Homo sapiens: one gene and its partners. The protein of the gene in region 2 interacts with the protein of the main gene of each other region in a pairwise test. Each region holds a gene or a part of one and is shown on either strand. Other genes may lie near its edges. The genes, in order: CIDEB, TPRG1, EBAG9 and REEP4.

Region 1 (8,090 bases), on a different chromosome or scaffold from region 2:
AGCCTTGAGGGCCCGGAAGGAAATTGCTGCTGAGCTTGGTGAGTACCAGCCCCTCTCTTTGATGTTTCCAGACTCTCCCCTCTCTTACTCCAGATCACTGGGTAGCTGGGAAGTCTACTGAAATTCAACAGTCTTTAGTTCCAAAGGGTGGTCTTGCTCATGGGTTCTTAGCAGTCTGCTTTCCCCTTCCCTCCCGCTGACTGATTGTGTAGTCCTCTGCCCTCACCCTGCCCTCTGACTTCTGTTCTTTGGAAAGTGAAGTGTTCACTTTATCCCAGTGGCAGTCCCAGGGTCTGGGGGAAATGGAGGGATCTTTACGTCAAGTAGAGTCTGTCTTTGAGCATGGTAGTACTAAACATGAGTGGTTCCCTTTGCAGGGGAGCAGAACCAGGAGCTGATAAGAGACCCTTTCGGCCACCATGTGGCTCGAAATGTGGCCTTGACTACCTTCCTAAAGCGGCGAGAGGCTTGGGAACAGCAGCAGGGTGCGGTGGCCAAGCGGAGGCGGGCATTGAACTCCATACTTGAAGACTGAGGCTTTGGATCTGGGACTGGGTGTTGATGGGGGAGGGCAAAATGGGGTATCCACCCCATCCCTTTCCTGGTTTAAATTGGAGTCAGAAGTCTTAGTGGTAAATATTTGATATTTTTATTGGAAATGTTTTTGTTAGTTTGAGGGGAAGGGTATGAAGACAGATCTCAAGGTAAAGTCAGAGAGGGCTGTCATCAGTATGCTGGGGAGTTTAGGGACAGGAGGCATTGGTAGGGGATTAGATGTAGCAGCAGTCAGGCTGGGATCAAGATGCCTGGGGGACATCTTGATCTTGGCCTTTCAGGGCAAGTGGGAGGCCAGAAAGGTGGCTAGGAAAGAACAGCATTCTTCAGGTAAGGGTATAGACTTGGGATGTGAGGCGTTATGCTGAAAGGTTCTGTCACGAGGGGATCAGAGGACAGTGGGGAAATTGGGTGGGTTATCTAGCCTGTACTGTCTGCAGGTCCTGAAATTTGATGCTGTCATAGTCTTTGCAGTGGGTCGGTTGGAATGATTCTGGGGGCAGAAGCTCAGAGCCCCTTAGTAGGAATGGAGGCGGCCCTTCTGCTGCCACTGCTCAGCCCCCTCCACTGCATGACGAAGGGTGGAGGAAATTCCCAGCAACATATGGCCCAGGCCTTGCAGCAGTGTGGAGGTCCAACGAAGGAGCTCCCTGAATGGCAGAGACAAGAGGAAATCAGATGATTTGGAAAACTTGGGAGGAAGCCATCAAGCTGGGAGATGAGGACTTTCCACAAGCAAGAGCTAACTAGGGGTAGGTGGGTGCAAGAGGACGAATTATGGGGACTATCCAACTGTAGGGGATGGGGCAGTATGACATGTTGATTTCTGACCTGAGTACTTTCTTTGGGCCAAGTCCTTGAAAGTCACAACTCATAGAGTAGAGCCCGTAGAATGTGGCTTTGACATTCAGGCTGCCAAAGAGGTCTCGAGGGTTTTGCTTGTACACGTCAAAGGTGAATCGGGCGATGTCCTTGCTGTGCTTGGGCCTCTCCCGTCCCAGGCCATATGACAGCACTCCACTCTGTAGGACACCCTTGTCAGTGCAGTAGATCCTCATACCAGACACCCACCACTAATCTCCATCAGCACTGGGTCAGACCCTCCCTCGCTTGGACTTTCTGTCCACTGTGTGACATCCTTGACAATTCCACAACTCCTCCTGCACCTGGTCCCCAGGATCAGGGTTAAGCTAGAGAGGAAGCCCGGGAAAGCTCTAAAGGACAGGCATTGGAAGCAGCCCCAGTATAGGCCTCTTACCCTTGTAGGGCTCCAGCTCTGACCAGACTGCAACACCATCAGGCACGTGTCATCCTCCAGCAGCTGGAAGAAGTCCTCACTGTCCACTGCAGTTCCATCCTCCTCTAGCACCAGGGTTAGCACTCCATTCAGCAGTAGGGTCTCCAATGCCTGCCCAATGGCAAGAAGCAAGAAGGGCAGGTCTTATCCCATGCCCCTTCCCTCTTTAGCTGCCCAACATCCATCAGTTGGCTCTAGACATTGGTCGATGTCCCACTTTGACTTTCCGGCACTTTGATACCTCCTAAAGGTTGCAGCTCTCCGTGTTCTTCAGTTTTTGGGGGATCCTAGCTAGAGGCTGACCTTTTTCCTCTTTGCTCCTACCATGTCATTGGCATCTCCCCTTGCTCCCCTCCAAGTCACTTCTGGTTTGGAATTGGAAAGCAAGCCAGGTTCTCACGAAGTCCACCCTTCTGTCTTATCTACAATGCTGCACCTCACTTCCCACACCCTCAAGAGTTCTCCAGAAGTGTTTTCAGTAATAGTGTTTAACCTTTTTGAGTCCTTACTCTGTGCCAGGTATGAGGACTTTACCTACATTATCCTCTTACTCCTTTCAACAACCCTAGGAGGTGATGTATTATTATTGCCTTTTTATAGTTGAAGAAACTGAGGTTTTGGTAGGTTGAACAACTTCCCAAGGTTTGACAGGCAGGAAGTGGCAGAATCAGAATTTGAACTTGATTTGTCACACAAATCACCTTTCCATACTAGCTTCTGAATTCTGTCCCTCGAACTCTCCCTATCTCCTGCTAACCCCTGCTCCCATAGAAAAGCTCACTCGGTGGAAAATGAACAAATTGACCAGAGCTCATTAGGCCCACTCCGCTGCTTTTAGCCCTCAGAGGGAGGGGCAGCTGTGTGACTTCAGCCCTCTGCTCCATCATCACAAGTTGCCACTGTTGTGGAGCCCCTTGGCTACCCCTGCTATAGGAACCGAGGAACTTGGCCTACTTACTTTGGCTAGCAGCTCCTGGCGGGTGGCAGCTGTCAGGCCTTTCCGGATGGTCCGCTTGTGATCACAGACACGGAAAGGTCGCTGGGGTGGTGGAGCTGAGGTCCAGACCCTCCGTCCAAACTCCGAGCTTATATTAGATACTGACCTGGTAGTTGAGAAGAAAAGTCAAGAAGGGGCGAGGAGGGGCTTGGTGAGTGTAAAGGGCATGATGAGGGTAGAGTGGCTAGAGGGCTAGGGAGGGAGAGATCTAGGTTTATCGATTAGGGATGAGGGAGAGACCATGGAGTGCAGGTGGGGGCGGGTGGCTCAGGAGCTTGACAAGCCCACTGTGGAGTGGGGAGCAGGAGAGGAAGGGGTACTGGTTAGTCTCCTAGGGGCTGAGTGGAGTATTGTTGCCCTGCCTATATCCCCTAAAGGTGGAGGGTAGAGCGGAGGGTTAGCAGTCACCTGAGTAAGTCACTGGGGTTCAGAGCTGAGAGGTACTCCATGGTGGACCGGAGAGTTCCTTCCCTGGAACTTCTGGGCTGGGTGGTTCTCTCCTGTGCTGGGGCTTTAGTGGTGTTTTCTGTTACAAACCTGGGATCTCAGCCCAGGACAAGGTGGGAATGAGTCAAGCCTGGACTCTGGCCCCCCTGCCTGGCCAGTAAGAAGGGCAAAGTCCAAGGGGAGGGATGAGGGAGGGGCCAGATGGGGTCCTGGAGGAAGAATTGCCTGGCAAAAGCCATTGGAGCTTGTATGTGTGTCTTTGGTGATGACATGTGTTGTGAGGGTAGATGGGAACCATGTAAAAGGATGAAATGTGACTTCTGGTGTTTTTTTATTTCTATGGAGGGAATTTCTGGGGACGGTTTCTGGCTCTCAGGCTCTGAGAAGCTGCAGTTTATGAGTGGCTCTGTGTGTGCTGCCACCTACTGGAGAAGCCATAAGCTGCAGCTTTAGGAAAAGGGAACCCGGGGCAGAGTGTGGGGAAGTGGGATGGCAGCATGGCAGGGCTTTGGAAAATGAGAGGTGAGACTGTGTCCAGGAAGGGTGTAAGGAGAGGATGGATCCTGATACATGGATTCAGGATCATTAGGGTCCTGTCTGGGACACTGGCCTTCCTGCTTACCTGCTCTTTCCTTCCTCCTTGGTCGGAGGAGGGGCTGGCTCACTGCTCTGGCTTCATTTTCCAGAGCTGCCTGCTGCAGTCACACTTAGGTCATCTTCTCTCACTTTTCTCCTTTTGCCGATTAGTGGACGTGACAGAGATGTGAATGGGGCAGGGATGTCCTTTGATGGCATCAAGACTTTAGCTTCTGGTGCGCTGTGTCCCAGCTCTGATTTCAGTTGCAGCCGTGATGGACAGTTGCATGGAAGCTGAGACTCTCACTGACAGTGAAACCCTCAAATGAACACAATCCCTGCTTTCCTGCCAAGGATCCTTGTAGGGTCCCCCAGCTTCCCCACTTTTTTTCTGTGTCCTGACAAAGAAACACAGAGTAACTTGATTGCCCTGTGACCTGGCCAGTTGCATTTCCCCTGCAGGCTTGAGCCCAAGCCAGAGCCTTGAAAAGGTATTCAGGTTGTTGCCCAAAACACTGAAAAAAACTGGCCCTGGCCCTGAACCAAATACCTTGAACCCTCGTAAACTCCATACCCTGACCCCCTTGTTTTGGATATACCCAGGTAGAACAACTCTCTCTCACTGTCTGTTGTGAGGATACGCTGTAGCCCACTCATTAAGTACATTCTCCTAATAAATGCTTTGGACTGATCACCCTGCCAGTCTTTTGTCTTGGGCAATCTATACTTTTCTCAGAGGTTCCCAAGGCCTACTGAAGGGACTTAACATACTCTTAATGGCTTTCCTCTCTCTTGTTTTACCTTATGCCCTCACTTCCTGAGTTAACCTCCCAAATACAGGATCACCTGTACCCAAGCCCTTAGCTCAAGAATACAGGATCACCTGTACCCAAGCCCTTAGCTCAAGCTCTGCTTTGGAAGAACCCAAACTAAGACAGTGCTCCTGGTGCCCTCCCCAAGCAACCTCAAGTTCTGGCTGTTACTTGAGCAGAGGCCTTTCTTTTCCCTTCCCCCAGCTCTATCCATCTGCCAGGCCCCCCTCAAATCTCTTCATTTCCAAGTTTTGCTTGACTTTTCCAAGAGGAGAGGGCTGCTTCTTAGTATGTCCCTACTCATCCTTTCCTTTCTTGTCTTGTATCCTGGTGCAGCCTGGTAATGGGGCCTCTTCATGGTTGTGTGTCATGACTCCCTAACCATTATGCCTCCATGCATCCCCTGTTCCTCCTGGAACCTAGCACCATGCCTTACATGGAAAAGCTGTCATTGACAGCCCGGTGAGAGCCCTGAGGGTGGAGTGACTGGGGCAGGGCCTGAGGCAAGAGGTGGGAGGAGGTAGGAGGCCAGGGGCTCAGCCGGACCAGGAGACTGGAAACAGGCAAGGATAAGGCAGGTGGGGGACTGAGTTGTTTGGGTCACCTCTGCAGGCCAGAGAGACCAGGCAACATACACACTGCAGAAGGTGGGCTGGGAGGATTGGGGCCAGAGCTGGGGGAGGGATGAGAACAGAAGCAGGACCAGGATTCAGCAGAGTCCTCCTATTTCCTTCCACCACCAGGGAATCTTACTGCCCCACTTCAGCTTGTGCTGTTTCCTGGCAAGGCAGGCTCTCACATGCCTGGACGCCTGGGTGCGTTGGTGATGGGAAGGAGCAGGGTGAGGGAGGGGCCCCAGGAGAGGCCCAGGATGAGCCTCATCTTGTCCCTCCCCATTCTTGTCTTACCCTCTGCAAATGTGATAGGCACAGGACAGGAGTAGGCACCTCGCCTACTGCTGCTTAACCTTTCAGCTTCTCCAGGCCCCCAATCCTGCTTGCTCCCAGCTTGGTAAGTAGATCTGTGCACGTCCCTTTACACCCCACCATCCAGTTTTGCCCAGATGTGCTAGAATGGGGCTGGACAAAGAAGGAGGGGCCAGACTAGAGGAGTGGTGGTAGAGATAGTGACAGCCTGGGGTGATGACTTTATGCCTGTTTACCACTGAGCTCTGGGAAGGAGGCCAGGAGTGGGGCAGGTCAACTGACTGGGAGCAGGGGATCTGGGTTCCAAGAAGGAGTTGTGTTTGAGGTGGGGTCTGGGTCCTCGTGGAAGTCAGGACTCCCAGGCAGAAAAGAGGCAGGCTGCAGGGAAGTAAGGAGGAGGCATGGCACCTTCTCATCGGGCATCACAGGTGGGGTTTTGCCCCACCCCTGAACGCCCTCTGTGGCGCCTTCCACCCACCTGTAGGCCCAGAAGGATGTCGGTCTGCTACCGTCCCCCAGGGAACGAGACACTGCTGAGCTGGAAGACTTCGCGGGCCACAGGCACAGCCTTCCTGCTGCTGGCGGCGCTGCTGGGGCTGCCTGGCAACGGCTTCGTGGTGTGGAGCTTGGCGGGCTGGCGGCCTGCACGGGGGCGACCGCTGGCGGCCACGCTTGTGCTGCACCTGGCGCTGGCCGACGGCGCGGTGCTGCTGCTCACGCCGCTCTTTGTGGCCTTCCTGACCCGGCAGGCCTGGCCGCTGGGCCAGGCGGGCTGCAAGGCGGTGTACTACGTGTGCGCGCTCAGCATGTACGCCAGCGTGCTGCTCACCGGCCTGCTCAGCCTGCAGCGCTGCCTCGCAGTCACCCGCCCCTTCCTGGCGCCTCGGCTGCGCAGCCCGGCCCTGGCCCGCCGCCTGCTGCTGGCGGTCTGGCTGGCCGCCCTGTTGCTCGCCGTCCCGGCCGCCGTCTACCGCCACCTGTGGAGGGACCGCGTATGCCAGCTGTGCCACCCGTCGCCGGTCCACGCCGCCGCCCACCTGAGCCTGGAGACTCTGACCGCTTTCGTGCTTCCTTTCGGGCTGATGCTCGGCTGCTACAGCGTGACGCTGGCACGGCTGCGGGGCGCCCGCTGGGGCTCCGGGCGGCACGGGGCGCGGGTGGGCCGGCTGGTGAGCGCCATCGTGCTTGCCTTCGGCTTGCTCTGGGCCCCCTACCACGCAGTCAACCTTCTGCAGGCGGTCGCAGCGCTGGCTCCACCGGAAGGGGCCTTGGCGAAGCTGGGCGGAGCCGGCCAGGCGGCGCGAGCGGGAACTACGGCCTTGGCCTTCTTCAGTTCTAGCGTCAACCCGGTGCTCTACGTCTTCACCGCTGGAGATCTGCTGCCCCGGGCAGGTCCCCGTTTCCTCACGCGGCTCTTCGAAGGCTCTGGGGAGGCCCGAGGGGGCGGCCGCTCTAGGGAAGGGACCATGGAGCTCCGAACTACCCCTCAGCTGAAAGTGGTGGGGCAGGGCCGCGGCAATGGAGACCCGGGGGGTGGGATGGAGAAGGACGGTCCGGAATGGGACCTTTGACAGCAGACCCTACAACCTGCTGCCCTTCCCTGTCCCTTTCCACCCCCCACCCACCCTCCAGAGGTCAGTGTTCTGGGACATTTGGGGACCCTTCTTTGACTAGAGTTTGGATCTGGCTGGGTAGGATTACTATACACTTGGGGCAGGCCCAGGCTCCTCCAAACTGAGGGATTATGAGGGTGGTGATGGTCCCTGTTAAGGACTATTGTGTGCTTGCAAGTTGGCATGTACCCATGTGCCAGCATTGCTTACTTGTTGCCAATAGCTGTTATTGTGAAATACACTGGGAAGCCATTAGATGATGACTTAAGTGTGCTTCCCCTGGTGGTTCTTCATGCCTGAGTTGTACTGAAGCCACCTAGTTCCCTGCTGGGTCAAGCCAGGCTGGGCAGTGCCAGCCTTCAGTGGCATCTTGACCTGCCCTCCTCAGCCCAGGTGCCCTGGTTCCACAGGCCAACCCATAGAACCACTCTGGAAATAAAGGAGAAAATGGAAGGAGAGGTATGGGAGCTTGGATGAGGGGTAGGAATGGGATCCATTCTCTGAGGCTTATAAAAGCCTCTGAGGAGGAAATGGCTCTGAAGGGGAAAATGAATCTGTGGGGTTTGAAAAGGAAGTTTTCCTGCCTGTCTTGTATTTGGTCCAGTGAGTATGAGACAGGCACACAAGGAGTGGACAGTGGTGTAGGGGCCCTGGGAGTCTGAGACTTACCTTGCCCCCTGACCATCTGATCCTCCCTGCAAAGGCCACCTGACGTGAAAAGGAGCCAGGAGCAAGCACTCAGTCAGGGAAGTTTGGAGGTTGGCCATTGGGGTATGAGGAATGGCAGGAATATTTAGAGGACAGGAATAATTTTTCAGAGAAGTGCCACATATTCTTTTTCTCTTTGCCAAGTCTGGGCTCCTTCTA
Region 2 (7,589 bases):
CCCTATATTGAGCTGTAGTAAATGCTTCCTACCCTTCAAATATACTTCAAATAGTATTGACTTGGGAGTTTACTTAAACTCTTCTCTTGTTGAAAACTCTTCTCACGTCTATTGAGCCAAAGCCCAGTTCGAGTGCCATTTCATCCTTACAATTATCTCTGATGGCAACCTACCTAGTTGCCATAAATCTCTTCTTCGTGAGACCTCAATATTTGCTTTCTTCTTCGTCTTGAAATATTTATCATATTCTGTCTTGCATTATAGTTACTTGTGTACACATTTTCAATACTAGATGGTAAGCCCCTTTGAGAAAGGGTCTCTACTCTTTACCCCTAAATCCCTAAGCTTAGGGTTGTATAATACACCATAGGTGATCAAAAGGTGATTATTATATTAGTGGGTGAATAAGAGAAAACATATCATTAAGCTAGTCTCTAGTATTTCAGCAATTTGGATTCTTTGGAAACAGGGCATTATATTGCTATCTATGTGCTATCATACATCATAATTTCTTTTCTTGTTTTTATGCCATTGATCGATTGAGTAAAGAGGATTACCCTGCAAGTATCAACTGTCCTTCCTATTCTTTTATAGGCATCTAAATATTATGCTGCAGCAGTGTCATCTTGCTTAATACTTTAGCATTCAAGTCACTGAGTTTTGATAGCTAGCTGAAGAAAATATCCTGGGTAGGTATCAGAGCCAACGGTATGTTCTACTGAAGTCATCATATATCCTATATCTCTTACATAGTGAGAGGTTAGGAACAAATAATTAACTTCACCTCTTCCCTGGTGCCATTAACCTGTAGCCTGGTCTGTCATTATGTAGAACTAGGTTTCCGTTGAAAGAGAATGATTGAAAGGAATCCTAATACCTAAGAGATTGGAAGAGATCAGAAGTGGAAAATTCAAACACTTGGTAGCCTAAATCAGGTAAAATGGGAGCTGTGGAGGATGGGGGAAAACATGTTCTATCTACAGGAAGAAGTTGCTGCCCGGCCCCAGCACAGGTGTTATCCATGAGGGGATGTGGGTCCATTATTATCAGATCTCCTGATCTTCCTGAAAACAAGATATCTGGATTTTTTACAGGAAATTTCCTAGATATCAAATACTTTGGAACTAGTTTTATCTTGTTTAACATGGCAGCACAAACAAAGCACATCTGCATGCTGGATTCACCTGTGGCTGCTGCTCTGCAAGCTCTGGAGTAAATGAATTCTCGGACTTGACGCTGCCATTAGATTAAACAATGTTGAGTAAAATATCAACTATCACTTCAAGTTTTAAAAGGATCAAACTGAGTGGCACTTATTTAGGAAGATCCCAGAAAATATAAAAATCCAGACAGGCTGAAGAAAATGAAGATGCCACCACCTCTTGCCCATCTCCCCATCTTATACCTAAGGAGCAGCTCCAACATTTGGCCGAAGCAAATATTCCAGAAGAACCAAGTCAATAAAGAGAGAGGCTTCTCTGACAGATTTCCCTGCTCTAAAGGGCATGATACCATCTCCAGTAGATGCTAAGCAAAGGTCAAAGTGCCCTAAAACTCTTAATTGGAAGAAATCTTAAAGGACATCTAGTTACAGTCTCCAAAATGACATGGCTAATGCTTCTGCTTGGGACTCCTAGCACCATTCACTACATATTGTGGGCAATGAAAGAGTAAGAGACCCATATGTGACTTGCAGCTCCAATGATACTGGCTGTGTGACTTGTGCATATCACTTCATCTTTCTGGGCCTCAGTTTCTCTGTTTTGAATAAAGTAATCAATTAAACGATTTCTTCAGGATCCTTACAGCCAGAAAGACACCAAGAATATATAGAAGTTCCAGCCTGACCAACATGGTGAAACCCCGTCTCTACTAAAAATACAAAAACTAGCCAGGTGTGGTGGTGCATGCCTGTAATCCCAGCTACTCAGGAGGCTGAGGCAGGAGAATCGCTTGAACCCGGGAGGTGGAGGCTGCAGTGAGCCGAGATCGCGCCACTACCCTCCAGCCTGGGCAACAGAGCAAGGCTCTGTCTCAAAAAAAAAAAAAAAGAAGAAGAAAAGAAAGAAAAAGAATATATAGAAGTCTGCCAAAGATTATATAGCATTACAACCCAATGCATTTGTGGTGGCCCCAAGGGATGACTATCAGTACTGTCATAATAAACTCAAACAGACACACACACACATACACACATGCACACACACACAGAGGAAACATTTCCTTCCACAACTAAGAATGATATAACCTTTTGAGCATGAAAAGAAAAATGATAGCTAAAATTAGCATCTTAAAAAGTAAACTACATAATAACTGAAGATGAGATTTCCTTAAAACTGTAGAACAATGAGATACTATGATAGCTGTCACAAGAGAGGAAATTGCATGAGTGTATTTGAAAGGATTTGGGGGTGTTTTTCCCCCATTGAGATTTGCTTTTCTACATACCACAGTGTGACTGAAAAGCTAAAATATTTCCCCAGGGCCTGTATGATCTGTGCCTCACTACGCTGCCTCTGACATTTGGAGAGTGTCATTTAGCCCCGAATTAAAACCTGCTTATACAGAGATCTGGAGGATGTCTCAGGCGCCAAGTAGTCATCGCTGTCTCATTTGCCTATCACCTTTCAGTTTACAACTCCCCTTTACATACATGCCCTCGTTTGTTCTCTAAAAACAGCCCTGTTTGATGGGACCTATATATTATTATGAAATTTCCCTCAGATGAATTCAAAAATAACCCTCTCAAACTGCCTGCAAAGAAATAATCACCTTTTGTTTGCCATTTAACGGTTCAGAAAGGCTTTTCACTTCTTTTGGCTTTTGGGGATAAGGTATGACCTGCTGGGTTCTATAATAGAGGAAGAGGGAAGAAGGAATCAAATCTAATCTTGGCCTTAACCTGCTGATCCAATTGGAACAAATCACTTCAATTGACCAAGCTTCAGTTCACTAAGCCACCAAATGGAGAAAATTATACCCATCCTACTGCACTATAGGGCAGTTAAGATCAAAATCAATATATAGATAAGTATGTCAAGTGGCTTTATAGGCTAAAAAATGCTAGCCTACAAGCCTCATCAACCCTGGACAGTAAGGAAGAATAGGGAAATTTCACATGGTAATGCAAAACTACAAACCTAAACCAAACTGCAAGTCAGTGGGGGAGGTGACCAGAAACTCGGCTTAGGGGACAGAAGCAATTGGTTCATAGAGAAATAACCCATCTCTGCAGAACCAGTGACAAGCCACTTGATCTTACCTGACTAGGCTGGTCCTCAAGGCTCTTCTTTCTCTTTCTGCACAAAGGGGGCTAGACCACAGATAGTGGCCAGGAGAGGTGTGATTGGCTCAGATAAAGCCAGGCAAGACAGTGCCCTGTGCTGTGACCCCACTCAGTCTGAATCTCACTTCACCAAGTAGGCTGAGAGTTACACTGCCACCCTCAAATAGTCAAATGAAAGGACTGAGGATGTTTACAGGGTGGAACTCAACCCGTCAGAGGCAGAGAATTGGGTTTGTGGGTGGGGCCTTTCTTGTTCTGCAATGACACACCTTTACCTCCTGTCCTCTCCCTCAAGAAGTCCTGCATTTTTCTGCCAACTCCCTCTAATACACATCCAGCTGAGGGAGCAGGAGCAGCCTATCATCCATTCCTCCATGGCTTCTGTATGCCTCCAAGTAGTTATAATTAAGCTTAAGCCTGAGGCCTACACTCCTATCATTAATATTCTTTATGATGGCTTGATTTATTGGATATTTGTGATTTTAAGCATCACTACCACTCTTGTCAAAAATGTAGAAGACATGTAGAGCAGTGTATCTCTGAAAACAAACACATGTACACACAATCTCTGGTCAGTATTCCTATTAGGAAATGTGCCACATGATATTGTCTCTATGTAAGTGTGTATCCCCCTCCCTAGATGGGGGGCCCCTTGAGGGCAATGCTACATCTTATTCTCTCATATACTCCTCAAAACACCCAGCAGATAGTAGGTAATAAATAAATACACATTGAATTAATGATGATCCATTAATATCTATTTAGTGAATCCTGATCTGTCATTTAATGGCTTTGCAGCCTATAGCAAGTCATAATCTATCTTTCTGAGGTTTTTTAATTTTGGTCATCTGTAAGTTGAGAGTATCATTTCTCCTTCAGAAATGCAGATAGAACTTGAAAGGAAGCATATGAGAATAAACCTAGGATAAGATTTGACATAGCAACGGTGCTAAAAAAATGAAATAGAATCTTAATGAACACATTCTGAAACCTAAGCAAGTGTGTTCTACATACAGAGTTGGTATAAAATAAAGTATGAACTGCACAAGTAGGTGGATTGCTGAAAGAAAGGAGAGCACAGAAAACAAAATGCTGTTATGTGTATGATTGAATTTCAATCTTCTATCCTAAATTCTCTACTTCATTCAGCAGACTCTGGCCAAATCAGATTGTATTTGTTTGATGGCTGGAGGAACGGGTGTGCGCTGACAAAGTAAATTGGTTGAATTCCATTCTTTTAAAAGAAAAATAACTAATATTCACCCTTCAAAAAATGTTGTTTAAAGTTCCAGGAATACTGAGGTCATGAAGCGATTCCACAGGAAATGAAGTGCAAACTGGCAACTCGCCACTCAGGAGAGGTCACAATGAATAAACAGTCCTTTTACCTGCTTCCACCGTGTCGAGGACGTCATGTATACTAACTCAACAGTAGTTAACTGAGCAACTACCTTGAGCTTTCTCAGTTATCCACATAGACAAGGATATGAAAAGGAACCAAACACATTCTCTGGCATAAGGAGCTCAAGAAGATAAAATTTGTAAGTGAATTAGCATTGCACGATATAGAAGATGATGAGCACCACAGACAGGATCCTAACAAGTACTATGGTAATCCAGAGGAGGGAGCAACTCCAGGAAGGCTGCACAGCGGTGGAGGCGGCATTAGATCCGGGCTGTTAAGAAGAGCCAGGATTTCAACAAGCACAGATGGTAGAGTTGGGTATAAATGTTATTGGTGAGATGGACTCAGCCACAGTTACCTGATCAAACTGATTTATGCCCCCTCCCTAATACAGACCCCAGGCTGAAAAGAGAGTTTTACAGAACCGGTATCTAGGTCACACCACTTAGACGCCACAAAACTACAGGGCAATTAGAAATAATTGCGAGGCAAATACCGTTCCCACTCAGCTCCAAATGTCTTTATGACAGCTCAGGGTGGGGGCACAAAAGGCAGGAGGAGTGGAGACATGCTGGATCCCAGCCTGGTCTCTTAAGAGAAGGACTAAGCAATGCACTGCTGTTTGAAGTATGCTATTTTAAAGGGCAAGAAACTCTGTGAAAAGACATCAATTGTTCACACGGCATCCATCTAATTATCGTTAGGTTTCCAGCGGCCACTGAACACTCCTCCCAGCTCATGCTGAGCTCCGCCATACTGCAGCCTGCAGTAACATAATACATCCAGGAGGGGCACAAGCAGTAGGAGTAATGCCACACGGAAAACCTCAGCTCTGGTCCCTGCTCAGCTGCTCACTGGGATCAGAGGCAAGTAGCTTAGTTTTCCCCAAGCCTTGATTGCCTCTTCCGTGCAATGGGAGTTACAGTACAGATCCCACCAACCTCCCTGGGCTGTTGAGGGAGAAAATGAGCTCCTGGAGGTGATAAGAGCTTTGTAAAATTCAAAGTATTGGTATGAATGTGAAGCAATACTATGACAGAACATATGGCTATATATAAGAATTCACTTCATGTCTGTATTTCCAGGCATAGCAAAGGCTATGTACAGATCTCCCAGTAGAGGACATGCTCAACAGCCAAGGAGCAGGGAAGCACAGAATAATTTTTACCAGATTGGCCTTCAGAGATCATTTCTCTCTGTGTCCTGTCTCTTCTCTCTCTTCTATAATAACCTTTACAGGCCGGGCCTGGTGGCTCATGCCTGTAATCCCAGCACTTTGGGAGGCCGAGGTGAGCGGATCATCTGAGGTCAGGAGTTCAAGACCAGCGTGGCCAACATGGTGAAACCCTGTCTCTACTAAAAATACAAAAATTAGCCGGGCGCAGTGGCGGGCCCCTGTAATCCCAGCTACATGGGAGGCTGAGGCAGGAGAATCGCTTAAGCCCAGGAGGCGGAGGTTGCAGTGAGCCAAGATCGCTCCACTGCACTCCAGCCTGGGCACCAGAGTGAGACTCCATCTCAAATAATAATAATAATAGCTTTTACAAATTATTGTTCTTCCTCTTCTCATTCAGCTCTAGTGTCTATGAGAAATAACGTATGTTGTTACTTATTTAGGTTAGGAAACACTGGTATGTTAGAACCCCTCTTCTGCCATTTTTCAAATGGGGATGGAGTGACATCCTGATGATCACACAAGCTAGTCTCCTCCCTGGACTCAGCAGGGCTGTTCTCTTACACACTGCCTGGGGCAGCAGATGGGCAGGAGGAAGTACAGGTGGCATGGATCCTGGTCAGGTATGAACCAGAATCACCTCATGTCCAGGTCTCCCTCATAGTGGATCATGCAGATAAAAATTGGTAAATAAACATGCATCACTGGGGGTAAATAGGTACTGTCTACAAGAATCCCATATCCCAACTCCCCAGATACACCCCTTGTCCCAGGAGTCTTTTGGGAAAGAGGAGTTCAATGACAATGAACAGATACTGGCAGCAGCTTTTGAAGTGAACAGGTACTAAGCAATATGAATTTCCCCTTCTCTTGCGTTCCAATAGTACACCACACACGTCACTAGTACCGCCCTCTTATAGTTAGTTTTCTTCCCCAATATGCATCTGTCTACCCTCTTTAAAGATAAGGACCATGTCTTAAACAAGACATTCTTTTTAGAATCTAGCACAGTACAATGCCAATAGTAGGTACTCAAAAGATACCTACTTTGACGGATGGGTGGATGAGTAAACGAATGAATATACAAACTACTCTGTTTTCCTTCACAGCCCTACAAGGCCTCACAGCTAGAGAGGTGACATTTCAGAGAAGGAGAAACAAAAAGCCCCTTCTGCTTTTGACAAGGGACTAAATTCAGCCCAAAGCATCTTTTTTTCTCTCTCTATTTACTCCGGACAATCTGTCCCTTATCAGATGAGCTCAAGGCTGGTTGGAAATATGCATATTTTATTTGAAAATATCTGCTTCCTCCAGTTTTGTTTTGCCACATACACATTTGTCTGCTTTGCTGTATGTTGTGTATCAGATAGGACTCAGACAAACTGCTTTGGCTTCCTAAACTGTTTTGTTTTCTCCATTCATTTATCATTGATCTCATTTCCTTCCCTGCATCTCACTCTTATTTCCAAGTTCCAATTTTATCCGCAATGAAAGAGAACAATTTCATTGTCGCACAGGTTCACTGAGGGCTAAAAAGGGCACTGGCATGGAAGTTAGAAAGCCTAAGATTTAGTTCCCATTCTGCCACTAACAAGCAATGTGACCTTCAGAGGATCGTCTCTTCTATCTTGGCCTCTCTTTCTCCTTTGCAAAATAAGGTCTGCTCTTGACAGCCACAGAATCTCGAAGTAAGTGCAATACTTCGAGACTCTCTGGATACCAAT
Region 3 (8,017 bases), on a different chromosome or scaffold from region 2:
CACCACATACTTGACTGTATGTACTGTTTGTATGCTATACCTCAATACGAAAGTTCCAAACAAACACATAAAAAATAAGAACAAAACAAAATCAGAAAGCCAGAAAAACATACTTAACTCTCATAGTATCTGATCTTGATTGCTCTGTAAAGGCATCATTGCCAATTTCTTCTAAGGAAAGGCAAAACGCACACTAGTCTTTTCTATTTCTAGGGTCAGAAGGGGCTTGTAGGCTATTAAGGTACAAAGACAGGGCTCTAAAATGTTACCTTAGCAATACTCAAGTAGTTTTGTACATATGGAGGCTGTCTCTCCATATAAGCTGAAAGATTTACTGAATGCCTAACCTGGAAGTGGCCTACTAATTGACAGGATGAAAAGAACAGTGACTGTTAAAAAAAAAAAAAAAAAAAAAAAAAAAAAAAGAACCAGAATATTAAAAATTGTACTCGAGTTATTTAAATACTTCTGTCAAAAACATCCCAACCAGTGGTTTACTCAAGTTCAAATCATGCAACAATGCTGACTCCTCCTTTCTTTCTCCTTACACCTAATTGCCAAAAAGACCCTATTCAATTTCCCAGTACTGCCCATATTCTTTCCTATTTCCACTGTAATCTATCTAGCATAAGCCTTTACTACCTCTTGCTGGAGTACTGTAAAGTCTTCTTAATTCTAGTATTTTACTCTTCCCAAGAAACAACATTTTTTATTTTGTATTATGGTTATTTCTATACCTTACTTTGCCCTGTACAACCCTTCTCTAGAGTATTTTATTCATTTGGTACCTTCAGTTACCATTTGCAAAGTAAGACTTGAAAAAAAAGTTTGATTGCTTCATTATGAGTAGAATGATCTGAAAAATTATGATGGTGAACAATCACTTCATTTAAAGCTGATTTGTCAAGAACAAAACTCTCAATCAAAAGAAAACTTTCTCAAATGAAAATTAGCCTAAATTTTCTGAAAAATTATAAGAAAAAAGAGCCAGAAAAGAGACTACAGAACGTGTGGTACTTGGCAGGGAAGGAAATAGAATCAAGGAGATACTCTATCAGTATGTTGTGAAGAAAAATGATATTTACCATTTGGGACTGTCAGTTTTAGGATATACATGAATAAAAGTTGAGAATAAATTTCATAAACTGCCCTAGTAACCACAGCCATCACCTTTCCAAATATTGTTAGTGTCATTGTTTTATAAATATTTGCCAACTTGAATAACTTCAATGCTAACTGGAGGTAAAATTTAAAGGTTGTTTTTTTTTTCCCAATAAAAAATAGAAACTGGGTCTTTTAGTGATTACAGAATAGAATTCTCTCCCTAGCAATCAAGAATATCCTCATTCTGCAGAAAACTTCCTTTTGTGATTAATAAAAGAGGAGAACTGATACTCATTGACTGTCTACTATGAACCATGCACTATCAAAATGTTAACACACAACTCAAAAAGCCATCTTATGACATAGATACTATTGTCCTTGTTTCATTGAATTAAACACAGAGTAAGCACATCCAGTGACTCCATTCAAACCTAGGTATATTTAATTCAAAAGCCAAGAACATCTCATGAACAAGGAACATTCTTAATAATTCAGTGATACTACCACTTCCAAGATAAATTTTCCAACCAGTTGCACTAAAATAGGGAAAATGCGATCAAGCCACACTTTGATTTTATCAATCACACTGACTGGCAGGCAGGAATATCCTTTGAGACCTGTATTTACTTAATGTCCCTATTCATCTAAATGAATATATATTAGCACCTACTATGTTTCAGTCGCTACTTTGGATTTGGAAGCTGGGAAATACTACCAACTCCGCATGGGGAAACTCTGCGTTCACTCCCAGTTGTCATGAGCTTGCCCATAAACTTATCCCTGAGGAATGCAAGAAACTAAGGAGGCAGGACGTCCATCAGTCTTGCTCATTCTGGTATTTATAGGTCTCAGTCAAAGCCGGGCACATAGTAGGTACTCAAATATTTGTTGAATGGAAGGAAACTAACATTCCTTGAGCACTTGAACGCTCAAGACAATGTTCGATCACCTCACTGGAATCCTAAGGACAACCAAAAGAGGTAGGTTTTTCACTACTCCCGTTTAATAGATGAGGTTGACAGACTTAGATTCACTTACCCAGGATTTAAAGGGACTGACCCGAAAGCCCAAGGCTCTCCCTACATCATATCCTACTTAAGAAACCTTTTAATTGTGTGCACATTGCCTCAGTGCGATTTTTGAAATGCCCTCTAGATCACCAATTTGATAAGTATCTTACGCTACTTTACACTTTAGTTGCTTTAAAACACTTTCTAGAACGGAACAATGTTAATATAATCTAATCTTAACATTAAATTTCCTTAAAAATTACAAAGACAAAAATTTGAGGTATATCAGAATGAGATTCAAAACTATGAGGCAATGTATCCTCATTAAGGCTTTTTGAAGAAATGACAACTCTAGGAAATCAAGAATGAGAGCTCTGCCATGTTAACGGAAAAAAAATACAATTAAAAAAAGAATGCTACATTAGAAACTGATAGATCAAATGTATTATATCTTTTCTTGTTGAAATTCTCGGTAAACTGCTAGAGGTCCTTTCAAGTAGCCTCAATACATCACAATTCACAAAACAAGCAAAGCCAAAATCTATGTTCGGTACATACTAAACAGGTGCTGTATTTCTAAAACTCTATTTACGAATCTTTTCATACCAAAATTTGAAAACCATATGATCTAGTACAGTCCAGAATATCCTCAAACTATAACTCTCTGAAGTGGGTTAGAAAATATTACAAAGCTCCCAAAATAAAATTTACCTGAACTCACTTAAATTTGATAAATAAAGGTTTGAGCAGCGGCCCGTAAGAGAAGGGGAAACAGAAGCGGAGTGTGAGAGCTGGTAGTAAAATCGAACATTCTGTGCCATGTCTGGCAACCGAGAGTCAGGCCCTCAAGTATGTGACACCACTGGGGCGGTTCCGAAGGCGGAGTAAGGTCTCCAGAATAACTCAAAAGGAAAGAGTTTCATAACTTAAGTGGTTTCATTTCAGATTACCCACGTGAAATTTGTTGATGAAAAAAAAATCATACCCACTGCACAGATGAGAAAAACAGGAGCGTTTTCAGGTTATACAAGCCGACGCCTGGCGCCCGGCGTGACGTGAAACGCTCTAAGTTGCTGGAGCTGGATACCAGGTGAACTGAGATTTAAATTGTGGAAAAATCGGCCTGGAGAGGTACAAGGCCTGTAGACGGAGGGCAGTAAGGTCACGCAAATTTCCCTGAGGAAGGCGGCTTTGGAGGCTGCGTGCTTTCCGGGCCGGTACCCCACAGCCCAGTCTCCCACGCGTGAGCGGAGCATGGCGAATGCTGCACGCCTGGGTCCCGCTCCCAGTCGCAGTTTCCTCACCCCAGAGGTCACCCTGACCCGGAAACAGTACCCAGAGCAGCTGTCGGGCGTCGAGGGAGGTCTGGTGGAAGGGCGAAAGGAAGGTGGGAGGGCGGGAAGTGCGCGGCTAGGCGGAGGGCCGACGGCGAAGGGCAGACAATGCCCCAGAGGCTAGGGCTGGGGTCGGGATGGGGGTAGGGAGAGGAAAGCCCCTCCCAGGCACGCGCGAACCGCACACACTCACCTGCCCCTCCCCCTCCCCGCCCGCCCGGCGGAGGCTCCGAGCTGCCGCGGGCCGCGCGCGCACACAAGGCGCGCTCACGCGCGCTGCCTGTCTCTTCCTCGAGCTCGCGCTCCGCCCGCTCACTCCCAGCCCCGCTCATTCAAAGCCGGGCGCGCGCTCCGTAGCAGCCTGCGTTGCCTCTGCGCAGCTGCCATGGCCGCCCCTTCATCGGGAAACCCGCCCCCAGCCCCTCCTCTAGCCCCGCCCCCAGCCCTCCTTGAAGGCGGCTCTCGGCTGTCTCCAGGCCCTCGCTTCTGCACTCCGCCTCAGGTCCTGGCTGGCCCAATAGGTGAGAGGCTACGGGTCTGACGTCGAGACTGGGAGCCAATGAGCCCTGGGAGCGGGGCAAGCGGCGACAGGCACGCCAGGTTCGGTGAGGGGTAGCTTTTTGGGACTATTGCGAGCTGCTTTGACTGTTTATTCTCGGAGCGCCTGCTTCTGCCAGATGTCCCTACTTTCCTTCTATGCAGAGTGCCTCCCCTCCAGCAAAGTCCCTTTCTGTTCAACCCACAGAACCCCTGTGTCAGATGCGACCAAGGAAAATACACTGCAACAAATGAGGGATCTCCCTCTGTCTCAGGAAGATTTGGATGTGGCTAGACAGACCCCCTCCCCTCAGTCATTCCGCCACCTCAAAGATGTGGAATGCTGAGTTTAATTCAAGACGTAGCCTCCTCCCAGTAATTTTTAATTGAATTGTGTTGAACTAGAAATGAAGAAGTGGCACTTCACCGTGTCCATGCATTTGTTCCTCACATGCACCCTGGACTTGCCCTTCTTTCAACCTGAGATGTTCTTTCCTTCAGTGCTTCTCTCTTTGCAGCCTGATTCTTCTTTTTATCTTGTATGCTATGAAAGGGGTTGTTATGTGCAGGGGACCCTCAGAATACTATGCTCCACAGTTGCAAAGTGACTGGTGAGGGAGAAGTGAATAGGGTCTAAGGCCAAAATCAGTTTATGCAAATTGTTCTCAACAAGCCTTTTTCTTTATATGCCTTTAATTTTTTTTTTTATTACAGCTGCCTTTGTTCTCCCACCCTGACCCAGCAACCACCTACCCACTTAACTTTGTGATAATCTACCACAACCGTCCTCTTTCCAATTTGCACCACGTTTTTTATTAATAATTTAATTTCCAAGACGGGAAAGATGTGTTTATGGCTCGTGCTCTGGAATGGTTCTGTGTAAAGTTGGGTAAAATTATTTAATCTGTTCACCTCAATTTCCTCATCAGTAAAATGGCCATAATAGTGCCTACTTCATGCAGTAGTAATGCTTGCAAAGCTCTCTTAGCACAGAGCCTGGCACATAGCAAACATTCATAGATAACAGTTGTTGCTGCAGCTACTACTACTACTGCATTACTATTGCATTACTACAGTATCATTTCCGGTAATTGCATTTCCCAAAGGCCATGCAACCCCTTTCAGTCCCTTAAACACCTGCTCTAACTTTAATCTCTAGAATTCTAATGCCTAAATTTCAATATAAAATTTCTAAATTTTTTTTGGATTTAAAAAATCGAGTTATCTAGCTGGGCACGGTAACTCATGCCTGTAATCTCAGCACTTTGGGAGGCCGAGGCAGGAGGAACGCTTGAGCCCAGGAATTTAAGACCAGCCCAGGCAACGGGCGAAACTCCGTTTCTACAAATAATTTAAAAATTAGCCAGGTTTGGTGGCGCATGCCTGTAGTCCCAGCTACTCAGAAGGCTGAGGTGGGAAGAATCACCTGAGCCTGGGAGGTCGAGACTACAGTGAGCCATGATTGGGCCCTGCACTCCAGCCTGGGAGACAGAGCAGGACCCTGACTCAAAAAAAAAAAAAAAAAAAATCCAAAATAACCTATATTCGGATATAAACGTGTTTAAATTTTTTTTCTTAAAGAGTTGATTGCTTTAGACAATTTATTATGCCCAAGGATATTTTCTTCTTTTTCCTGATTCTTCAGTTTTCTTTATTAAATTTGCCATTTCCAAATGAAACAAAACGAAATGTATATACTTTTCCAGAAACAGCTAGTTACTGAGTACTTGTTTCCCAACACAATAGCAAAACAGAAAACAAAGCTCGCTAAAGACTGCAAATTTAAAATTTACTTTAGTAATACCTATAAAATAATATTTTAAAATCATCTTTACTTGTTAAATAGTAAGCCCATAATTGGGATCACAAGTCAATAATTTGGGATTGGGTTTAGGGACCACCTCTTGGGAACAGGGAACTTTAAGTCCTGTCCTCTCCCCAAAGCTTGTGTGGGACGGGGGTAGGAAACCACCAGATGTCAAATGGGAGGAACATAAGGGATAGAACCTGGCATATGAATTTCTTTTACTCAATGGAATATAGTAAATTCTGTCTGCTCTGTGTCCAAACCATTTTGCTCACTTTAACGCTTCTGATCAGCCTCTGCCCAATTACCAGCTTGATTTATTCACACTATCAACCTCCAGCCCACCACTTACTCTCCCCTTTCAAAGCCTACATAGGCTTTGTTCTGACTTCTCCAGCTGGGGCTAACTCTGGCCTTGTCACCTGACCTGGCCCAGGAGGTAGGAGCAGACTGCAAACACAGCCCTCTGCTTCCAGATCTTTCCCAACCCAGTTCCCTGGCTTTTCATCAAAGGGTGGGTTTTTTTTCCCTCAAACACAATTTTAGACCTGCTGTTCTGACTTGGACTTTAATGGCTTTTTATTAATGAGCAGCTGTTCACAGTTGAATACAAGATCATAAAGTCACATTCATTTCTTGATCAAGTAAAACAAAGCTTTGCCGCACATAGAGTGACATCTTTGAGCAGATACATTTGAAAGCATAGGATTTTCTGATGAGAATTTTAATGAATTGTTTTATTAATCTTCCTACTGGAGAATTTTACTTGCTTTCAAAATAATAAACATTAATATTCTGGAAAATTATAACTTCTTTTTTAATACTCAAAATCACCATATACTAGTTAGGGTCAATTGCCTAATAGAGAAATCAAACAGTCTGAAGCAGATTTTTTATTTCTTTTCTATTAAATGAAAATTAACTTTCTATGAAGCATTTAAATAAATTTTTCCTCATAATTGTTATTACAATTAGCAGTAACTTTTATTGCTAAATACAGGAAGATTCAAAATTTAGTAACAATTTAGAGTTAACCAGTTTTCTTCAGAAGGGGCCTGGTTAGAAATCAAGAAAAATAATACATATATTTTAGTAGAAATAAATTCAAATGAAAAGATGAGGTGAATTCTCATTTTGTGTTCAGTGGTGAGGTTCAGCCACATCATACTTCTGGCTAATGTCCACATCGTTATTAGATTTATGACAGAGTTCAGCTATATTATGAATTAAGTAGAGTTGATGGGAACAGCATCTGGCAGTCTAAGACCTTTTGTTATTTCTAACAGTAAATGTATTGAAATTCATACAACCAACATAAAACAGTAGTTTGTAAATCTATCTTGTACATGGATTGAGAAAGTAGAAATAAAACAACATGAAACAATGTGAGACTCATTCATTGAGCTACAGCATGATGGACATCGTGACTTTGACCTTGAACAACTTTAAGCCTCAGTTTTCTCATCTGCAAAATTAGGTTAGTAATTCCTGCTTTACGGATTTATTTTGCAAATTAAATATCATACCATATGTGGAAATGTGTTGGAAACACAGCAATAAAATCGGTGAAACCTTTGAAGCAGGCAGATTTGTTATCTTCAAGATCAGTACAATCCCCTTTAGCTCACAACATGGAATAGTGCTTCCAAGAAATAGAGGTGAATTTTATGTCATCAGCAACCAGAAGTAGACATGTCTACTAGCAATATATTAACAAAGGGAAACAGGGAGGGACAGCCAGAAGTCAACCCTCCATACCCCCGCTTCTACCTTCTTTGTTCCCTTCTTTGTTCCCTTTGTTTTAAAGGCATAGGATGAAAGAGCAGCTGTCAGAACTATGACACTTACAATCCTTCCCCTCTCTCTCCAGGCTTTTATGTACTACTCATGGGATATTTATTTCATACCAAGATCTGTTGCCAAGTTTTGTCTATTCTTTCTTCTCAGTGTCCATCATTTCAGCACATCTGGATATCAAAATGATCTGCTAACTTAGTCTTTTGTATTTTACTATTTTCCTTCCTCTAAGTCAGTTTGTTACTTTGCTGTCTGATTAATATAAATATTGTTACACCTTCTTCATAGTAACTGACCTTTTTAAATTTTCCAGTGTCTAATTCAAATTCACTTAGGAGGATATGTGTCTTGATTGTTGCTTTTTAAACTCTTAATTTTGAATTGTTTGTTTGGGGATCTCCCTCTAACCACCCATGCCCTTTAAGACA
Region 4 (7,537 bases), on a different chromosome or scaffold from region 2:
CCGCCACATCCACCCAGATGAGGCCTTGGAGTCCTAGGTGACATCTGGATCTCTCTTCTCCCATATTTCATAAGCCACCAAGTTCTCTCCATTCTTTGTCCCAAAGGTTTGCTAGATGGGCACTTTTTTGTTTTGCTCTTTCCCAGCTCAAAGCTTTGTCCAAACACTCTTCATCGCCCATTGTCTTGGGTCCCTTGCCAGCCCCCACCAACCCGCTTCTCAGTCTGATTTTTTTTTTTTTTTTTGGAGATGGAGTTTCGCTCTTGTTGTCCAGGCTGGAGTGCAATGGCGCGATCTCGGCTCACCACAACCTCTGCCTCCCAGGTTCAAGCAATTCTCCTGCCTCAGCCTCCTGAGTAGCTGGGATTACAGTCATGCACCACCACACCTGGCTAATTTTGTATTTTTAATAGAGACGGGGTTTCTCCATGTTGGTCAGGCTGATCTTGAACTCCCGACCTCAGGTGATCTGCTGGCCTCAGCCTTCCAAAGTGCTGGGATTATAGGCGTGAGCCACTGAGCCTGGCTTTTTTTTTTTTTTTTTTTAAAGATGGAGTTTCTCTCTTGTAGCCCAGGCTGGAGTGAGGTGGCCCTGTCTTGGCTCACTACAATCTCCGCCTCCCAGGTTCAAGTGATTATCCTGCCTCAGCCTCTTGAGTAGCTGGGACTACAGGTGCCCACCACCACGCCTGGTTAATTTTTGTATTTTTAGGAGAGACGGGGTTTCACCATGTTGGCCAGGCTAGTCTCAAAGTCCCAACCTCAGGTGATCCGCCTGTCTCGGCCTCCCAAAGTGCTGGGATTACAGACGTGAGCCACCACGCTCAGCCATCGGTCTGATCTTTCTAACACACACTTTCCTCCTGTCCTCCCCTGCTCAGGAACCTGCCTTGGCTTCCTGCTCAACAAACCCATGAGCCTCTGCCCACCATGAAGGTTCCTGTGACCTGGTCCCACCGTACACACCCAAGCCCTGTGGGCAGTCAGGGTCCCTCAACATCTCTGTGAGTGGAGTCGAGAGAGTCTAAGACAGTCAGATGGGGGCCGGGTGGGGGACAGTGCTCAGGGTGTCAGTGCAAGTAATGGGGTCTCGGGGACAGCACACTGAATGGCAAAACAGGTGTTGTCAAGCTGTGGGGACCCCTTTTCTCCTCTTCCCCCATGGGCTTGAGTAAATGAAATCCTTTTGTGGCCTTGTGTGGGTTGGTGACAGTGTAAGGGACAGGGGATGGAAACGGGGGAAATGATAGATCCTTGGGCAGTGGTGCTTGCTGTGTGACCCTGGGCAGGTCAAATCCCTTCTCTGAGTCTCCAGGTTTTCATTTGTCCTCCAGAGCCCCTCTCAGCTCTCGCATATCACAAAAACCCTTCGTTTCTCTCTCTTCAGCGAGCACCTGTGAGCAGCTGTGCACAGAGGAGTGGGGTCTGGAGCCTGGATAACATGGGTGTGAATTCTGGCTCAGTCCCTTTCCATGGTGTGAGATTTCAAGCAAGTCAGCTGATTTCCCTGAGCTTCAATTTCTCCTTCTGTGAAGCAGATTTAAAAACCCCACTTCATGGGTTCCTGATTCTGCCAGCCGGGTGAAACCAGCTAGTAACATTCAGCCACGTTACTTAGCCTATTTGTGCCTCGGTTTTTCTTATTTATAAAATGAGTATAATCGTGATACCTACCTGACAGGGTTTGTTGTTTGTTTTTTCCAGCTTAGGCTGGAGTGCAGTAGTGCGATCTTGAGTCACTGCAACCTCAGCCTCCTAGGTTCAATTAATTCTCCTGCCTCAGCCTTCCAAGTAGCTGGGACTACAGGAGCACGCCCCCACCCCTGACTAATTTTCATATTTTTAGTAGAGATGGGTTTCACCATGTTCACCAGACTGGTCTCGAACTCCTGACCTCAATGATCTGCCGTCCTCGGCCTCCCAAAGTGTTGGGATTACTACAGGCATGAGCCACCGCATCCTACCCTGACAGGATTATTTCTCATGAGAGTGAAATGCATTAGTATATGTAAGTCCATTTGTATAGTGTGTCCAGCACATGATTATGATTTGCCTTGGTCTATGGGAATATATGAAAACAGAAGTGGCTCAGAGAGGGGTGTTTTGTGCAAGAGGAGGAGGTGGATCTTTGGAGAGAACTGTCTGTGGGTGATGGTTCCTCACCCATCCTCAGTCTTGGAGCCCCTGTGCCCCATATCTTACCTGCAGCCTCTGACCTGGCCTCCTCACCCCCAGCAATAGGTGACTTACCTGCTTTTCACCTCCTCAAATATGCTCTTAGCTTAGCAGGCACCTCCATCATTCTGGGGAGGCCTGTCCTTCTTTTCCAAATGGGAAACGGGCCCTTATCCTGTGCTTGGGAGAGGTTGCCAGGGAAAGTGGGTTGAGTCTCCCAGACACGCTGGCACTCTGCTGCCCAGTAGAAAGATAAATATCACTTTGACAGCTGCTGCCCCCAGGGGGGAGCTCTTCTGAGGGGTGGGAGGCACTTTCCTCCCTTGGCCCGAGTGCCTGGCTTTCTGTGTGTGCCTGCTGGGTCACTTGCCCTGGGGCTTGTCCACGTCCAGAGTGCTGCTTAGCAACCCAGTGGAATTGGGTGACTGTGTCAACAGCTCAGGACCAAAGGCTGCAAGAGGCAAGGTCTACTCACTCTGCCAAGACCAGGGATGGTGACACTCCTCAGCTGCCAGCCTCTTGCCCTCCGTGCTGAGCCTTGCTGTCAGCGCAGACCTCTGACATCTCTTCTCTGAGATTTCCCAAGCACAGGCATTGGGACCAGGAGTCTCCATACGGGAGACCATCCCAGCTGAATGAGCTTTGGGCGGGCCCAGGTAATGTTTCCCAGCAAATGGGGGTAGACAGAGGCCTGTGATGCTGAGGTCAGGTGCGTGGCCCCAGAAGGCAGCCAGCAGGGAAGGGACAGTTCTGCAGCACGCACCAAAGGACCCGAGGCTCACGTGTGCAGTGACCTCCTGAGTCATGGATGTCCCTTTCAGCTGCTCCCCTATTCAGTCACAGCTTTCCTCCTTCAGGGAGACCCAGGACACTTTTCACCTAGAGAACCATGTCTGTGCCTAAAGATGGACAGTGGCTGGGGCCTTCCTTAGGAGTTCCTCTAGCCCTTGGCCTTTTTGGTTACTCCAATGTGTGTGTGTAAGGGGGGACAGGTAAATGTGAGGGTTGGTTAAGAGAGGAGAGGGAGACATGGGGCCTCGGGGAAGTTTCTCCTGTGGGCTGGTTTCACTGCTGGCTCTCACACCCAGCAATACCAATAAAACTGATGACAGTAATTAAGACCATATAATCACCGTGTGTTTATTTATCCCCCAGAAGCCTCCTTTCCCTGGCCCCATGATTACCTATTCCATCCTTATGATAGCTGGTGGGGGTTAACTGTGGCTCCAATAAAAAGCAGTAACTGCCTGTGTTTCCACCCCACATGCCCGGACAGCTTTGCTCCCACCCTCTGCAAGGTGGGGGGACACTATTTTCAGAGGGAACAACAGAGGCAGTAAGCTGAAGATGTCAAAAAGAATGAAACCTCACAGGGCAAGTAGTAGAAGCAGCAACGTTTGCCTTCTTTTTTAGAGCCTTCCCCCTTCTTCCTGGCATCTGCCTCCCTCCCAGAGGAACTTATCCGGTTCCATGGCCCTCTGCAGGGCCACTCAGCCTGCAGCTGCTGATCTCTCAGAAGACTGATCAAGCCAAGCATGTAGCCACCAGCCAGCAATAAATACCACTGGGTGATACCAGGAAAGTTACTTTTCACCACTGAGCATCCTATTTCCTACATGGTTAAAAGAAGTTTGCAAAGACTAAGACCTTGCGTGCAAACGTGCATTACAAAATGGCAATGGTTGATACTACTATTAAGGGCCCAGGGTTATTTGTGTACTTGGCTCAGAGGAATAGGTGGAATTTCAAACTTCTGCTGAAGGAGTGTGGGAGCTGAGAGCTCTACCCAGAATGCCTCAAATCATCGCGGTCAGCCTGCCCCGGAGTCAGGGATCTGGAAAGGCATCCCAGAGAGAAGGGAACCCCTGAAACCTGGTGGGGCAAAAAGTCCCTCAGGTTCCCTCTCCCCCCACACCTCCCCCCTTTCCCTCCTGGACCCACTGGTGTGAGACCCGGACTTGCTGGCGCTCAGCCAAGCTTCCTTCCAGCTCCTGACTGAGCCTGCAGAGGAGATCCTTCCCTCTACCCCACCAACCGCATCTCATGCCTTTACCCGGTTCACAGAGGGGAAAATGAGGCGAGAGGGAAAGACACCGGGAAAAGCCAGTGAAGGGTCGCTTAAACTCTGGAGTCCAGATTTTCTTTGTGTGCCGACCCCCGCACTCCCCCTGCTTTTTTGTTACAGCTTCCCACACGCTAATCTTTCCGATTGGGAAGGTGGCTCCACTGTGGGCCCCACGCGCGAGTCCCGCGGCACATCGCCCCTTTAAGGGGCCGGCCTCTCGCCTCCCTGACCTCGCCCCGCCCCCTCCGGGGCTACACTGCGCCTGCGTGGCAAGCCGGAGCCCTGGGGTTGGGCAGCACTCGGTTCCGTGCAACTTTCAAGTGAGTTGCGAACTCCGCCCTGTAGGCCGGTGCTGGTGGCCCGGCGCGCTGGAACCGCGGCGACCCGCTCCAGCGCGGGACCAGCAGCAAGGGCCGAGCGCCAGGTTCTCCGCGGCAGAAAGGGCGGGTGGGAGCTGTAACTGCCCCGGCCGCGGGGCGCGCCCGCTCCCAAGTCGGCTTCCTCCCCGCCGGGGCCGCTTTGCCTCGGGTCTCCCCATTCTCCAGGTCCCCTGAACTGCACAGTCGGAGGCCGTGGGCGGCGGGCTCTGCCTCCGCCGAGGGACAGCCGGATCGCCCCTCTGCTTCCCGCAACTGCCCTGATCACCCCCCGTCCCAGCCCTTGAGTGAACGTCCTTCTGAGCGGCTTCCTGGGGTCCTCCCCACGTCCCAAAGGCCGGCAAGATGGTGTCCTGGATGATCTGTCGCCTGGTGGTGTGAGTATGGCCGCCCTCAGACCTCCTCTACCCCGGGGTGCCGTCCCGCCCCTGTGGTGGAAGCTGTGGACGTCTAGTGGGAGGAGGAACTTTCTGAGCTCCACCCTCCAGCACTCCATGCAAGGGTTAACGGACCTGTGGGCTTGCACGCGGTGTCTGGGGCACCGCAGGCTACCCGCCCCACCAAGCCTCGTTGGCTGAGAACGACCCCTGCCGCACGCCACACACACTGCAAACAGATGCGTGGAGCCGAGGGCCACAGGCCTACCTTGCTGCCCCTTGGCAAACACAAGGTGATATGGCACGTTGTGGGCGGAGAATCCAGGTGCCTGCTTGCCATCTGAGCAGTCACATGACTCACCATCCTATTCCTCACCTTTGAGTATGCCAACATCTGGCTCACATAGCCCTATCTGCAACCCAGCAGTGTCAGGTCTGGTGACCCTGGGCCTGATTGCATGCCCATGGGAGGGGACAGTCTGGTGTTCTCACCCACTTCGTGGAGTGGCTGTCCTCTCACTCCATCATGCACCCATGGGCCACCGGTGCAGGCCTGGGCAGGCTTGGGATGTTTGTAAACAGCAGGGTGGGGAGGTGGCCTCCAGGGCTCTGACTCAGGCACGGGTTGTACAAGCCAAGCGAGAAAAACAGGGCGGGTACTGCCACCTTGCACCCCAGTGGGGGGAAATGGCCACTTGGCAAGGTGGGAGTGGGGCATGGTGCCCCTCACACTCCCCATGGCTGCTCTTCCAGGCTGGTGTTTGGGATGCTGTGTCCAGCTTATGCTTCCTATAAGGCTGTGAAGACCAAGAACATTCGTGAATATGTGAGCGTGGGGGTTTGGGTGTGTTTAATAGGACTTGGTGAGGTGGGGAGGGTCTCAGTTGGCCTCTCCCTCCTCCAGGGGCAAGGCTGTGTGGCACATCCTGAGTGGAGTGGGGAGGGAGAGAGAATGGGCCCTGTTCAAGAGGGTGTAGATAGAGGGCAGGCCATCGGGGTGCCTGTGGAAGATCTGGTGGGTGAAGCTTGTTGGAGGCGGGCATAGGAATGAGCAGCAGTTTCTCAGAGCTCCTGTCCAGCCATGTGTGGGGGAAAGCAGCTATGCAGCCGGACAGGCTCCCTGGAATCTCTGGGCTGGGCTGGCCTGGGTTGGGAGTTGGTGCTGCAGGCCCCATGCTGACCTCTGGGCGCTCACCCCACAGGTGCGGTGGATGATGTACTGGATTGTTTTTGCACTCTTCATGGCAGCAGAGATCGTTACAGACATTTTTATCTCCTGGTATGGACGCAGGGTCCGCAAGCCATGGGTCAGGGGTGGCCCCCCCAGCCCTGCTCCTTGGCTCACCCTGCCCCTTGTGCTGTGACAGGTTCCCTTTCTACTATGAGATCAAGATGGCCTTCGTGCTGTGGCTGCTCTCACCCTACACCAAGGGCGCCAGCCTGCTTTACCGCAAGTTTGTCCACCCGTCCCTGTCCCGCCATGAGAAGGTACCCCAGGGGGAAGCGGGAAGGGAGGCTTAGGGGTGGGTATGAGGGAAAGAGCCCTGGACCTGGGATTTAGGATGCTGGGGACACCGGGGTTCTATCCCAGTCCTGCTGCTATTGAGGGGCAGGACCTTGACAGGGCCCAGCCTACCTCATCTTCTGGGATAATCAGGTGGGGGTACACATGAATGACCTTTGAGGATGGAAATTGGTTTGGGGGTAGTGGTGGCGGCAGCTGGAGCATGGCCACTCATGGAGGTGTGAGCGGGTGGCAGCCCTGCTCTTGGTCTGTGTTTGTGGCCCGGATTTGTGGCTCTGGGCACCAGGTGGGGCTGGGCTGGGCTGGGTGGCGCCACAACCAGTGGCTTCTCAGAATCTGCAGAGGAAGAGGGACTCTGGCTGTCCACCTGAGCTCTCCTCCCCATTGGGTCCACAGGAGATCGACGCGTACATCGTGCAGGCCAAGGAGCGCAGCTACGAGACCGTGCTCAGCTTCGGGAAGCGGGGCCTCAACATTGCCGCCTCCGCTGCTGTGCAGGCTGCCACCAAGGTGCTCTGGGCCCCCAGCCCTCCAGCAGCCCCCATCCCACCCCTAAGGCCCTTTGGGCTCATTCAGCTCCTCTGCCAGGGAGCCCAGAGATGGCAGCCGGGGAGCAGGGGTGAGAAGGTGACGGGGGGGTATTGGCAGAAGCGTGGAGCTGGAGTCAGACCTTCCTTCCTGGCTCTGGCACTGAGCGTAAGCAGCGGCTCCTGCTCTCTGACTTTGGTTTCCTGTTGGTGCCACATTGGCGCGGGGCCAGAAGCTTGCTGAGCAGTTTTCACTTCTGCGTCTCAGCTCCGGTGATTAGCTGGTTGGCCAATATCCCTGGGCAGCCTCCCCGCTGAAGCCTCTTCCCCCTCGCAGAGTCAGGGGGCGCTGGCCGGCAGGCTGCGGAGCTTCTCCATGCAGGACCTGCGCTCCATCTCTGACGCACCTGCCCCTGCCTACCATGACCCCCTCTACCTGGAGGACCAGGTGTCCCACCGGAGGCCACCCATTGGTGAGCGGGCAGAGGGGC

The links.
Region 1: the proteins of TPRG1 (region 2) and CIDEB interact in binary tests that used the Homo sapiens proteins (3 or more experiments, as listed by UniProt).
Region 3: the proteins of TPRG1 (region 2) and EBAG9 interact in binary tests that used the Homo sapiens proteins (3 or more experiments, as listed by UniProt).
Region 4: the proteins of TPRG1 (region 2) and REEP4 interact in binary tests that used the Homo sapiens proteins (3 or more experiments, as listed by UniProt).

Annotation. Positions count from the first base shown.
Region 1 is NC_000014.9:24,304,561-24,312,650, forward strand, and holds CIDEB (lipid transferase CIDEB), read right to left. Parts: upstream 3,418-8,090; 5' UTR 3,299-3,417; coding exon 3,258-3,298; exon of another isoform or gene 2,956-3,257; coding exon 2,811-2,955; exon of another isoform or gene 1,964-2,810; coding exon 1,814-1,963; exon of another isoform or gene 1,578-1,813; coding exon 1,387-1,577; exon of another isoform or gene 1,206-1,386; coding exon 1,073-1,205; 3' UTR 627-1,072; downstream 1-626. Other genes in the region: NOP9 (nucleolar protein 9), read left to right, coding at 1-38, 378-535; LTB4R2 (leukotriene B4 receptor 2), read left to right, coding at 6,105-7,181. UniProt on the Homo sapiens protein: Lipid transferase specifically expressed in hepatocytes, which promotes unilocular lipid droplet formation by mediating lipid droplet fusion. Lipid droplet fusion promotes their enlargement, restricting lipolysis and favoring lipid storage.
Region 2 is NC_000003.12:189,167,805-189,175,393, reverse strand, and holds the start of TPRG1 (tumor protein p63-regulated gene 1 protein), read right to left. Parts: upstream 3,424-7,589; 5' UTR 3,263-3,423; intron 1-3,262.
Region 3 is NC_000008.11:109,535,544-109,543,560, reverse strand, and holds the start of EBAG9 (receptor-binding cancer antigen expressed on SiSo cells), read right to left. Parts: upstream 3,389-8,017; 5' UTR 3,100-3,388; exon of another isoform or gene 2,836-3,099; intron 1-2,835. Other genes in the region: EBAG9UORF (uncharacterized protein LOC139907707), read right to left, coding at 3,761-3,835. UniProt on the Homo sapiens protein: May participate in suppression of cell proliferation and induces apoptotic cell death through activation of interleukin-1-beta converting enzyme (ICE)-like proteases.
Region 4 is NC_000008.11:22,138,908-22,146,444, reverse strand, and holds the start of REEP4 (receptor expression-enhancing protein 4), read left to right. Parts: upstream 1-4,537; 5' UTR 4,538-4,962; coding exon 4,963-4,994; intron 4,995-5,747; coding exon 5,748-5,820; intron 5,821-6,196; coding exon 6,197-6,273; intron 6,274-6,361; coding exon 6,362-6,482; intron 6,483-6,915; coding exon 6,916-7,029; intron 7,030-7,383; coding exon 7,384-7,519; intron 7,520-7,537. UniProt on the Homo sapiens protein: Microtubule-binding protein required to ensure proper cell division and nuclear envelope reassembly by sequestering the endoplasmic reticulum away from chromosomes during mitosis.